Regions from separate parts of the Homo sapiens genome. Here region 1 is linked to region 2. Evidence: fine-mapped expression QTL. A gene starts in region 2. The other region holds a variant in brackets. All regions are shown on one strand. Distances are from middle to middle. Region 1 overlaps DOT1L (DOT1 like histone lysine methyltransferase). Region 2 holds the start of PLEKHJ1 (pleckstrin homology domain containing J1).

Region 1 (5,512 bases), 29 kb after region 2:
CGGGTGCCCTCCAGCAGCAGGAGCCAGGCTGGGGCCTTACCATGGGGGCGTCGGCGGGGCCGGCCACCTTGCCCTCTGGGCCCTTAGTGGGCGTGGCCGCGTTGCTCTTGCTCTCGCGCTGCTGGCGGCGCCGGGCTGCCTCCTGTTCCTCCTGGAAGGAGAGCAGGTTGAGCCACAGGAAGCCCCAGCGCTGCCCACGGCCCTCCTGCACCGAGAGGCACGCGGAGCTCAGACTCAAGGGGGCCACGGGCCCAACTCTGTCCACTGCAAGTCCTCTGTGGCACAAATCAGGAAACTGAGGCCCAGAGACAGCAGTGGGCTGCTTGGGGCCCCGCAGGCCAGGACGTGACCCGTGGGCACGGATAACGGCATTCACAGCCACTCCCACAATCACAGATGCCTGTCAGTAAGAAGCCAGACTGTGAGCCACAGAGAAAAAGAACCACATCCAAGACAGGAGACGAGAAGCCCCTCAGGCAGCAGGACCTAGAAGCCACAGCCCACAGCCTCCCCTGCCCTCTCTCCTCTCTTCGAAAGGCACCGAGGCCCACACATGGGACGCCATGCACAAGTTCTCTGATGTGAGTTAGTGGAGGGCGCGACCCACGGGAAGGGGAACACAGGGTGCGCCGGCCACCTCGGGCCGTTCCCTGCTCTCCAGGGAAGACCCACATCCCCCTAAGCATGGTGGGAAGGACAGAGGGCCCCCGAGGGGTACCAGGCTCTGAGGCCGGGTTGGAGCCCAGCCCTGGCTACAAATCCAGGCAGTGACAGAGCCCTTCCTGTACGGGGTTCTCCGCATGCTGGTCTTGTCTGACCCCCTCCAAAAGGAAAGGACGCCCGGACAAACATCCTCTCAGCTTTGGTGGCAAATAAGCAGGCAGGTCTGAGGCTGCAGAAGCGCCAGCGGGCAGGGCGGCCACTGTGGCTCCCCAAGCCAGGCTTTCCCACCGCTGCTTTAAGGTGGGAGAGGAGGGGACAGCCCTGCCTCCGACGGTGCAGCGCGTGCAGGGCGCGGGGGCCCAGGAGCTGCACTCTGCACCGAGGGTGGGACAAGCGCACATGTGTGGCCCCCCAGGCCTCAAGAGGGGGCAGCCAGCAGTGACGCACAAGCTTTTCACCCACCCAGCCCTTCAGTGCAACTCACCCCACCACCAAAACTAAGCCAAGCCACCTCCCCAAAAATAAGTATTAACAAGGGGAAGGATGTCCCAGGCCAAACCATCAAAGACAAGGCAAAGCATGAAGACAGGCAAAGAGACAGAGAGAGGGTGGGAGAGAGAGAGAAACGGAGAGGGAGGGTGGGGGAGAGAGAGAGAGATTGAATGGTGAGAGAAAAGGGCTGGGAGAGGAGAGGAAGAGGGGGAGGACAGGGAGGAAAGGGTAGGGAGAGGACCAGGAGTGACAGTGGGGAGGAGCAGGAAGGAGGCGGGAAAGGGCACAGGGCCGGGCCCCGAGGGGCGGCAGGGCTGTGCTCCAGTCGTGGCTCCTGAACCCGGCTGCGCACGGCTTTGCATTTCCCCACATCAGTGCATGCGTGTTATTAACCCAAGAGAAAAAACACACAAACTTACCCTGAGTTTTGGGTTTTTCAGACTAGAAAAATAGTTTTCAAGCTAAAAAGAAGAAAGAGAACCCTGATTAGAAGGGAGTCCCAATCTCTGTTCGGATTTGTCTGGACACCCAGGTAACAACAGCAACCTGGACAGTGGCTGGGGAGGCTGTTCTGGTATCTGGGGACAGCAGGCATGCAGCTAGAGCCCCCCAGTGGCAAACGCGGATGTGACTAACCCAGCTGTGGCCAGGCGTCACCCTCAATTCACCAGCACGCGACGGGTGGGCGGGGCTGGTTTAAGCCTTCAGAACAGACACAGGGCCCTGGGATGTGTCTCTGCTTCTGGAAGAGGGAGGGCTTTCTGCACAGAAGAACCGCGCCCGCCTCAGAGGAGAAGGCGAGAGGCTGCGCCGAGGGCGTCAGTGCCAGGGCAGCTGAAGCAGCAGCACTGCGTGGAGGTGGGGGCCGCACGGTAGGCCAAGCCCCCAGAGCCTCAGCCTCAGCTCACCATGCCTCTCGTCCCAGGGCCCTCGGGGGAGCAGTGGGAGGGCGGGGTGCATCTGCCTGGGGCTGTCGGTCCCCAGACGGCACCAGCGCTCCCCAGGCAGGCTCTAGTGGAGGCTCCGAGCACTGGACAGTGAGGGTGCAGACACACCAGCACCACCGTAAGGAAAACCACCGCTACCCCAACAACAGGAACAGAGTGCCCAACCAAAGGACGGGAAAGAGACCAGGGGAAGCCTCCCAGCCCTGGAGGGCTGGCGCTGCCCACATGCCAGGAGGCTCGGGATACTCGTGCCCGGGGGGGAAGCACCGTGGGAGGCAGGCAGGCCGCACACTGGCCCAGGGCTGTGTCAGAGGACCCTGGGGAACACAGGGAGGGAAGAAGCATCCCAGACCCCACCCATGGACCCTGGTGTCTCCCCGCTCAGGACCCTCTCACATGGAGGAAGCTGGGAACAGGGACGTGGGACTCCTATCCACAGGGGCCTCTGGATATGGCGGCCGGGACCCTTATGGTCACACATCACTCTGATGGCCCCGCCCCACCCCAGGAGCTGAGCGTAGACTAGGGGAGACAGCACTCAGCCCTCACCCAGGACACGCCCAGTGCCTGGGAGGACCCTGGTGGGTCCTGCGGTGCAAGCAGTACTGAGGGGCCTTGAGGAGCTGGGCCTGAGCTCAGGGGCCGGGGGGCGTTGAGGGCTCTGAGGGGAGGGTCTCAGAGGCCACATGAGAAAGGAGAGAGCAGTGTGACGTGGGCGGGGTGGAAGACCAGGACGGCCCTGCGGCTGAGGCGCAGCGAGATACTCACTATGGTGCGGTCGATAGTGTGCAGGTAGTAGGAGACTGGCTTCCCCGTCCACGACACCGAGCCCTTCAGGGGCGAGAGCTCCACCACGCGCATGATGGTGCCGATGTCTGCAGGAGCCACAGGTGAGGCC[G/A]GGGCCTGCGCCTGCCCACAGCCCCTCCATGCAGACCTCACCCACCCCAGGGCAGGCGTGGGGACAGAAGCCTGAGCTGCGCGTCTTCCCTCTTCTCCCACACTGCGTCAGGCCACAGTGGCCCACAGAGGCCGGCCCAGGGAGGTGCACCATTCAACACCACCTGGCCTGGGCCCCTCCAACCTCAGAAAAACAGCCACAAACCCAGCTGAGTGGAATGGAAAAGGAGGGGGAGAAGATCTGGAAGCGACTTAGATCACGGCTGCAAGAACGGCCAGCATCCAGCAACACAGGCACCTCCCGGGTGGGCGCTCCTCAGGGAAGCCCCTCAGAGGAGGCCGTGCTGCCCCGCAAGGCTGGGAGCTGACAGAGCACGCAGCACAGTAAGGCAGGCAGGGGGCATGGGAGGGGCCGGCTCCTTCCCACCGTGGGCCTGTCTCTGTCCACAAAAGTCCTGTAAATCCTTCACGCCTCCCCTCGAAGCCGGGGTCTCCCCGAGGAGTGATTCTACCCCCATGGCACACAGTGCTCTATGGGGACGTGTGTGGTTGTCGCGACCAGGGGTGCTCCTGGCATGGAGTGGGTGGACACCAGGGACGCTGCTCAGCACCCTGCACTGCCCAGGACAGCCCCACCCCACAGAAGGATCCAGCCCCAGTGTCCACAGGGTCAAGGAAGAGGGACCTAGGAATACTGCGTGTCAGATGGTTAAAATTACCCGTGTTCATCATTAACAACATGAGAGTTTCTTACCACTCAAGTTTCTACTGTTTATTCTGAAGTTCAGAGGTGCAAAGGGTTTCGAGGACACGATTCTGCCACCTGAAACACAGACACTGCTTACTGCCACACAGGAGAGAGGAAACAGAAGAGCAGACACCACTCAAGGTGACAGAGAAGGAACAATGACACGGAACACACACACACTGGGCTCCGGGTCCTGTCCACCTGCCTACAAGCAACACTAGGAAACACCTTCCAAGTTGAAGCCTATTCTACAAATAACTTTTTTTTTTTTTTTTTTTTTTTGAGACAGAGTCTCCCGGCTCACTGCAACCTCCACCTCCCTGGTTCAAGCGGTTCTCCTGCCTCAGCCTTGCGAGTAGCTGTGATTACAGGCGCACACCACCACACCTGGCTAATTTTTGGATTTTTAGTAGAGAGCGGGTTTCACCCTGCTGGCCAGGCTTGTCTGGAACTCCTGGCCTCAAGTGAGCCACCACGCCCAACCTCCTACAAATAATGCTTCTTTAAAAAACATTCTCGGCGCGGTGCAGTGGCTCATGCCTGTAATCCCAGCACTTTGGGAGGCTGAGGCAGGTGGATCACCCGAGGCCAGCCTGGCTAACAGGGTAAAACCGTGTCTCTACTAAAAAAATACAAAAACTAGCCAGGTGTGGTGGCGCACATCTGTAATCCCAGCTACTCGGGAGGCTGAGGCAGGAGAATCACTTGAACCTGGGAGGTGGAAGCTGCAAGTGAGTCGAGATCGCGCCACTGCACTCCAGCCTGGGCGATAGAGAGAGACTCTGCCTCAAAAGAAAAAAAAAACCCACTACGCTGCCAGGCGCACAGGCTCACGCCTGTAAACCCAGCATTATGGGAGGCCAAGGCGGGCAGACTGCCAGAAGTTCCAGCCCAGCCTGGGACACAGGGAGACCCCATCTCTACAAAAAATTAAAATAAAAAATTAGCTGGGCATGATGGTGCATGCCTGTGATCCCAGCTACTCGGGAGGCTGGGGCAGGAGGATCACTTGAGCCCAGGAGGTCAAGGCTGCAGGGAGCTATGATCACACCAGTGCACTCCAGCCTGGGCCAAGGATGAAGACCCTGTCTCAAAAAAAAACAAAACAAAAAACTAAGGTTTGAGAGGCAGGAAGAGCAAACCCCCAAGCCGTACACAAGCAGGAACAAAATCTAACTGTAGATGCAAACTGGAAACAGTCATGCGAAAAGAATTATTTCAAATACCTCTGAACCCTGGGATTCTAACTGACTGTCAGTGATAAATGCAAAGACAAACAGACCGGATGGACACCTTCAGCCTCAGTCTGACCAACACAGTGAAACCCCGTCTCTACTAAAAATACAAAAAAGTCAGCCAGGCACCTGCAAGGCTGCTGCTAAGCGTCAGTCTCACTATCACCAGCCACTATGGGGCATCTTGTGTGTGCTGCAGGAAGAACTTGGTGTCAGGAGCCGAACTTCGCAGGACCGAGAGAAACAGAGCCTTCTGTTTTTACACATATAAAGAAGGTAATCATAAAAGTCAAAATGTGGGCCAGGTGCGGTGGCTCATGCCTGTAACCCAGCACTTTGGGAGGCCGAGGCAGGGAGATCACGAGGTCAGGAGATCGAGACCATCCTGGCTAACACAGTGAAACCCTGTCTCTACTAAAAATACAAAAAAATTAGCCAGGTGTGGTGGCGGGCGCCTGTAGTCCCAGCTACTCGGGAGGCTGAGGCGGGAGAATGGCGTGAACCTGGGAGGCGGAGCTTGCAGTGACCAG
Region 2 (5,000 bases):
CCCCCGAAAAAAATCATCTGTTTCTTCAAAAGCTCCCAGAAGTTTTGCTCGGACAGCATGAAGGGAAAGAGATGACCACACTGGAAACAGAGGTCAGCACAGGGGAGCAAGGACAGGAAGGTTTGGGACAACAGCTCCACTTCCAGGTCAGAGCACAACCAGTCCCATTTGGAGGAGGAGGATAAGGGGGTCTTGGAGGGAAGTGGTGAGGGGAGATCAATTTATTTAAACCTATGCAAAATACAACTGATAGGTGTGTGAGAGGTGGGAGCTTTGTGGGGAAAAAACAAACAGCAGGTAAAAGAAAATCAGGCTCATGGTAAAAACAAAGTTAATTAGCTTTAAGGGAAGATAGAATGGTACAAGAAAAGCCTAGCTGAACATATTACTTGTTTTAGCAGCCAACAATATTTTGCATCTTATTTAGAAAACACAACCAATGACCAACTATGCTCATGACATAAACTCATTCAGGATATGGAAGGTGAAGGTGCAGTGGGTGGATGGGAGGGAGAAGATCTCAACAGCCGTGACAAGAAATCAGCAGATGATGTCTACAAATTGATAAATCCATGAAGAAATCTGTTACTTACTAAGGTAAAGATCAGGGGACAGCCTGGCCAACCTGGTAAAACCCCATCTCTACAAAAAATACAAAAATTAGCCGGGTGCAGTGGCTCATGCCTGTAATCCTACCACTTTGGGAGGCCGTGGCAGGTGGATCACCTGGTCAGGAGTTCGAGACCAGCCTGGGCAACATGGCGAAACCTCGTCTCTACAAAAAATACAAAAATTCGCCGGACATGGTGGTGAGCACCTGTGATCCCAGCTACTCGAGAGGTTGAGGCAGGAGGATGGCTTGAGCATGGGAGTTTGAGGCTGGAGTAAGCTGTGATTGCACCACTGCACTCACTCCAGCCTGGGTGACAGAGCAAGACCCTGTCTCAAAACAAACAAAAAACCGATGACGACCAGGGGAAATGAGCTTAAGAATTGAGGAAAAGTGGCCTCTGGGACCTGGGACTAGACCATTGAGAAGGAATTAGTTTTTCGTGGCAACACCGTTCTCTCCTTAACCTAGCCAACAACCTATTTTCCAGAGCTCCGCCTGGCTGTTTGGTGTCGTCCAAGGATACACAAGAACAACGGTCACAGCGGGGTGCACCTGCAAAATGGGGCCAGCTAACGTGTTCTGGTCGCCTTTGGCATGATGTTGAAGCCGTCACTCCCATTTTAAGGGAACTGAGGCTCACAGGAATTACATCACAGAGCCCCAGTCAACTAACAGGTATAGATGAGCATACAGAAGCGTTCTCGGCTACAAGGAAGGCGGCCGAAACCATTTCAGCCGCGATCCCGATTCGACCCCAACGAATCTTGGTTGTTTCTTTTTTATTTTGTCAAACAGGGTCTTGCTCTGTTGTCCAGGCTGGAGTGCAACGGCACAATCACAACTCACTGCAGCCTCGACCTCCTGGACTCAAGCGATCTTCCCGCTTCAGCCTCCAGAGTAGCTGGGACTACAGGCGCGCGTCACCAACCACGCCCGGCTAATTTTTTTTTTTTTTTTTTTTGCAGTGATGGGGTCTCGCTATGTTGCCCAGGCTGGAGTGCAGTGGTGGGATCATGGCTCACTGCAGCCTCGACATTCCGAGCTCAAGCGATCCTCTCGAGTAGCTGGGCCTACAGGTACAACCACCACTCCTGGCTAATTTTTTAAAATTTTTTGTAGAGATGGGGGTCTCGGTGTGTTGTCCAGGCTGGTCTCGAACTCCTGGCCTCAAGCGATCCTCCCGCCAAGGCCTCCCTGAGCAGTGAGATTACAGGCGTGAGGCCCCGCGCGCGGCCTCCCAACAGGAGTTTGGAAATAGAGTTCCTGGCGGGCCCGACCCTCCAGGCCCGCCCAGCGCGGGGCCTCAGGATGCACAAGGCCGGACGCTCACGGGAGGAGGGAGGGGAGCGACGCCGCCGCCCCACCCTCGGCCCGCGGCCTGTCGCAAGCGCCTCTCTCCTACGTCCGCTGTCCCCCAGGGAACCCCCGGTCCGCGTCGGCCGCCGCCCTCAACCGCCTCTACTCCTCACCAGAGCCCAAGGCCGCGTTATCTCCTCCTCGTTTCGCCACCTCCACGACTTCGTTTGGCGAACGGCGGGCAAAGAAAGCACTTCCGGGGCAAATGAGACGGGCCCTCTGGTGTGCGCATGCCTGGCCCGCCCAGCGGCGTGAGTCAGAGGGTCCCGAGGCGCGAAGGAAAAGGCTGGAGGGGGAGAGGCTGAAAGCGCGGCCTGGAAGGCAAACTGCGCGTGCGCACAACGCTCTCAACGAACCCTCGGTCCGCTGCGGCCGCACGGGGCCAACTTTCGCGAGGGAGCGGCTGACACTCTCCGGGCGACGTTATCGCTCCCTCCGCCTGCGCCTGGCCGCTCTAGAAAGGGGTGCCAGCCATCGCTGGGGTGCCTTGATTCTGTTCCACCTTGGTCCGGTTTATTTCAGTTTAATGGTTATGTAACAACGGTCCGTCTCTCCTACCAACCGGTACCCCGCCCACGCCAGCAGCCACGGGTCGCCAGCGCCACGCAGCGGAGGCGGGCGGCATGGCTGGCCCAAGGTGCGCAGGCGCACTAGCCCTGGGGGTGCTTCCGTGTCTGCGCCCTGAGACATTTTTGGCGCCGGCCCCAGCCTGAGCGGGGACGGCGGCCGGGAGGGCGCGGCCCGGGTTCCCGTTCCCCGCGGAGCCATGCGGTACAACGAGAAGGAGCTGCAGGCTCTGTCCCGGCAGCCGGCCGAGATGGCGGCCGAGCTGGGCATGAGGGGCCCCAAGAAGGGCAGCGGTGAGCGGGACCCGGGAGACCGAGACAGTGCCAGGGGCGGGAGGCCGGGGCCGGGGTCTGGGCGGGGGTGCCGGAGGCCGGAGTCCGGGTCGGGGCGCCGGGGACGGGAGGCCGGGGTCCGGGCGGGGGCTGCCTGCGCCCCTGAGTGCGCGCTGTGCCCGCAGTGCTGAAGCGGCGGCTGGTGAAGCTGGTGGTGAATTTCCTCTTCTACTTTCGGACAGACGAGGCCGAGGTAGGGGCGTCCCGGGCGCGCGGGCGGGTCCCAGGCTGGGCCCCTCGGAGGCCGGGTGCTCACTGCCCCGTCCCGGCGCCCGTGTCTCCTCCAGCCCGTCGGAGCCCTGCTGCTGGAGCGCTGCAGAGTCGTCCGGGAAGAGCCCGGCACCTTCTCCATCAGTGAGTGGGGCTAGGGAAGCCAGCGGCGCTTCCCGCAGCCCGGGGCACCCGCAGCGCCGCACTTTCCCCTCCCCGGGCGCCCAAGGTCTCCTCTGTGTCCCCAGCCTGGCGCCACCCTCCTCAAACACAAGAGTGCATTGTCCACGGGCAGCTCAAGGTCAAGTTCTCCTGGCGGGCACCACCCTTCCCACCTGCCGAGTCCACTTAAGCTTGGGTCCCTCCCAGACTCTGCTCTTTGTTCCCTGTGGGCCCAGGCTGTACTTACAGGGCAGGTGGGCCAGCCCCACCCAAAGCGTTTCCCCAGCTGCCAAGAGTAGCATGGGTCTAGCATTGTTATATGGCCCCGGGCTGGAAATCCCAGGTGGGGGTAGGAGGAGTGAGAGGGGGGTGTTCTCCTGGGTCTTAAGAGATTCCCTTCTGCGGGGAAAGATGGAGTCCCTGCTAGTTTGCCCAGAGTGGCTGTCAAAATTCCACAGGCCAGGTGGCTTAAATATCAGAAACATTCTCTACAGTTCTGGAGGCCAGAAATCCTAGATGAAGGTGTGGGTGGGGCCGAATCCTTCTGAGGCCGAGGGGAATCTCCCAGTTCCTAGTGGTGGCCAGTATCCTCCAGGTTCCTTGGCTTGTGGAAGCGTCACCTTGTCCTCCTTGCATCACGTCTGTGCCCACATTTCCCCTTCTACACAGACGCCAAGCAGAATTTAGGGCCCACCCTGACAACCCCTTTTTACTTCACTTTATTATTTTATTTGCTTATTTTTTGAGACAGGGTCTTGGTATGTCGCCCAGGCTGGAGTGCAGTGGTGCAATCTCGGCTCCCTGTAACTTCCCCCTCTCGGGTTCAAGTGATTCTCCTGCCTCAGCCTCCCGAGTAGCTGGTACTACAGGCACGCGCCACCATGCCCAGCTAATTTTTGTATTTTTAGTAGAGACGGGGTTTCGCCATATTGGCCAGGCTGCTCTCGAACTCCTGACCTCAGGTGATCCTCCCACCTCGGCCTCCCAAAGTGCTGGGATTACGGTCTTGAGCCACCGTACCCGGCCCTCTTTATTTTTGAGACAGGATCTTTTGTTTCCGAGGCTGGAGTGCAGTGGCGTGATCACAGCTCACTGCAGCCTCAACCCCCTTGGCTCAAGCAGTCCTCCCACTTCTGACTCCGGAGTGGCTGGGCCTACAAGGCCCCACCACCACACCTGGCTAATTTTTGTTTTTGTAGAGATGGGGATTTTGCCATGTCACCCAGGCTGGTCTCGAACTCCTGAGCTCAAGCAATCCTCCCACCTTGGCCTCTCAAAGCGCTGGGATTATAGGCATGAGCCACCGCACCTGGCGACAACCTCATTTTGACTAGTTTATATGCAAAGACCCTGTTTATATACAGGGCCATACTCATGGGTTCTGGGGGGTCAGGACATGAACACATCTTTGTGGGGGCCAGAGAAGGGACAGTTTATGGGCAATGGCAAGAGGAAGCTGCTTGTGGCTGTGGGTAGGACCGACCACAGGTGTTCCATCCCCAGGCTTCATTGAGGACCCTGAGAGGAAGTATCACTTTGAGTGCAGCAGCGAGGAGCAGTGTCAGGAGTGGATGGAGGCTCTGCGTCGGGCCAGGTGGGGCCAGGCGGTGGTGGGCACTGCTGGGGTGGGCACAGCAGCCATGCAGAGCGGGCATTTGACCCCGTGCCACCCTTTTCCCCAGCTACGAGTTCATGCGGAGAAGCCTCATCTTCTACAGGAACGAAATCCGGAAGGTGACGGGCAAGGTGTGTGCAGGGCT

Evidence for each region. PIP is the estimated chance that this variant, and not a neighbour inherited with it, causes the effect.
Region 1: its variant is the best candidate, but not a certain one, in a credible set for the expression of PLEKHJ1 in blood mononuclear cells (TOPMed, PIP 0.70).

Annotation. Positions count from the first base shown.
Region 1 is chr19:2,205,039-2,210,550 of GRCh38, reverse strand. DOT1L (DOT1 like histone lysine methyltransferase) reads right to left here. Exons shown (of 28, transcript NM_032482.3): 10 at 3,754-3,822; 11 at 2,871-2,977; 12 at 1,575-1,616; 13 at 41-151. Among named protein-coding and RNA genes, the nearest start is that of DOT1L-AS1, 7.8 kb to the left of the region's middle. The variant G/A (reference allele first, on the strand shown) is at 3,001.
Region 2 is chr19:2,233,984-2,238,983 of GRCh38, reverse strand. PLEKHJ1 (pleckstrin homology domain containing J1) reads left to right here and starts at 2,655. Exons shown (of 6, transcript NM_018049.3): 1 at 2,655-2,829; 2 at 2,994-3,061; 3 at 3,156-3,222; 4 at 4,744-4,834; 5 at 4,923-4,986. The coding sequence starts at 2,736. SF3A2 (splicing factor 3a subunit 2) reads right to left here and starts at 2,160. Exons shown (of 9, transcript NM_007165.5): 1 at 2,083-2,160. It overlaps MIR1227 (microRNA 1227), which reads left to right and starts at 4,835; the gene lies at 4,835-4,922. MIR6789 (microRNA 6789) reads left to right here and starts at 3,058; the gene lies at 3,058-3,155. RefSeq lists silencers at 1,875-1,974, 2,585-3,214 and enhancers at 2,395-2,444, 2,023-2,631, 3,240-3,848, 3,851-4,430.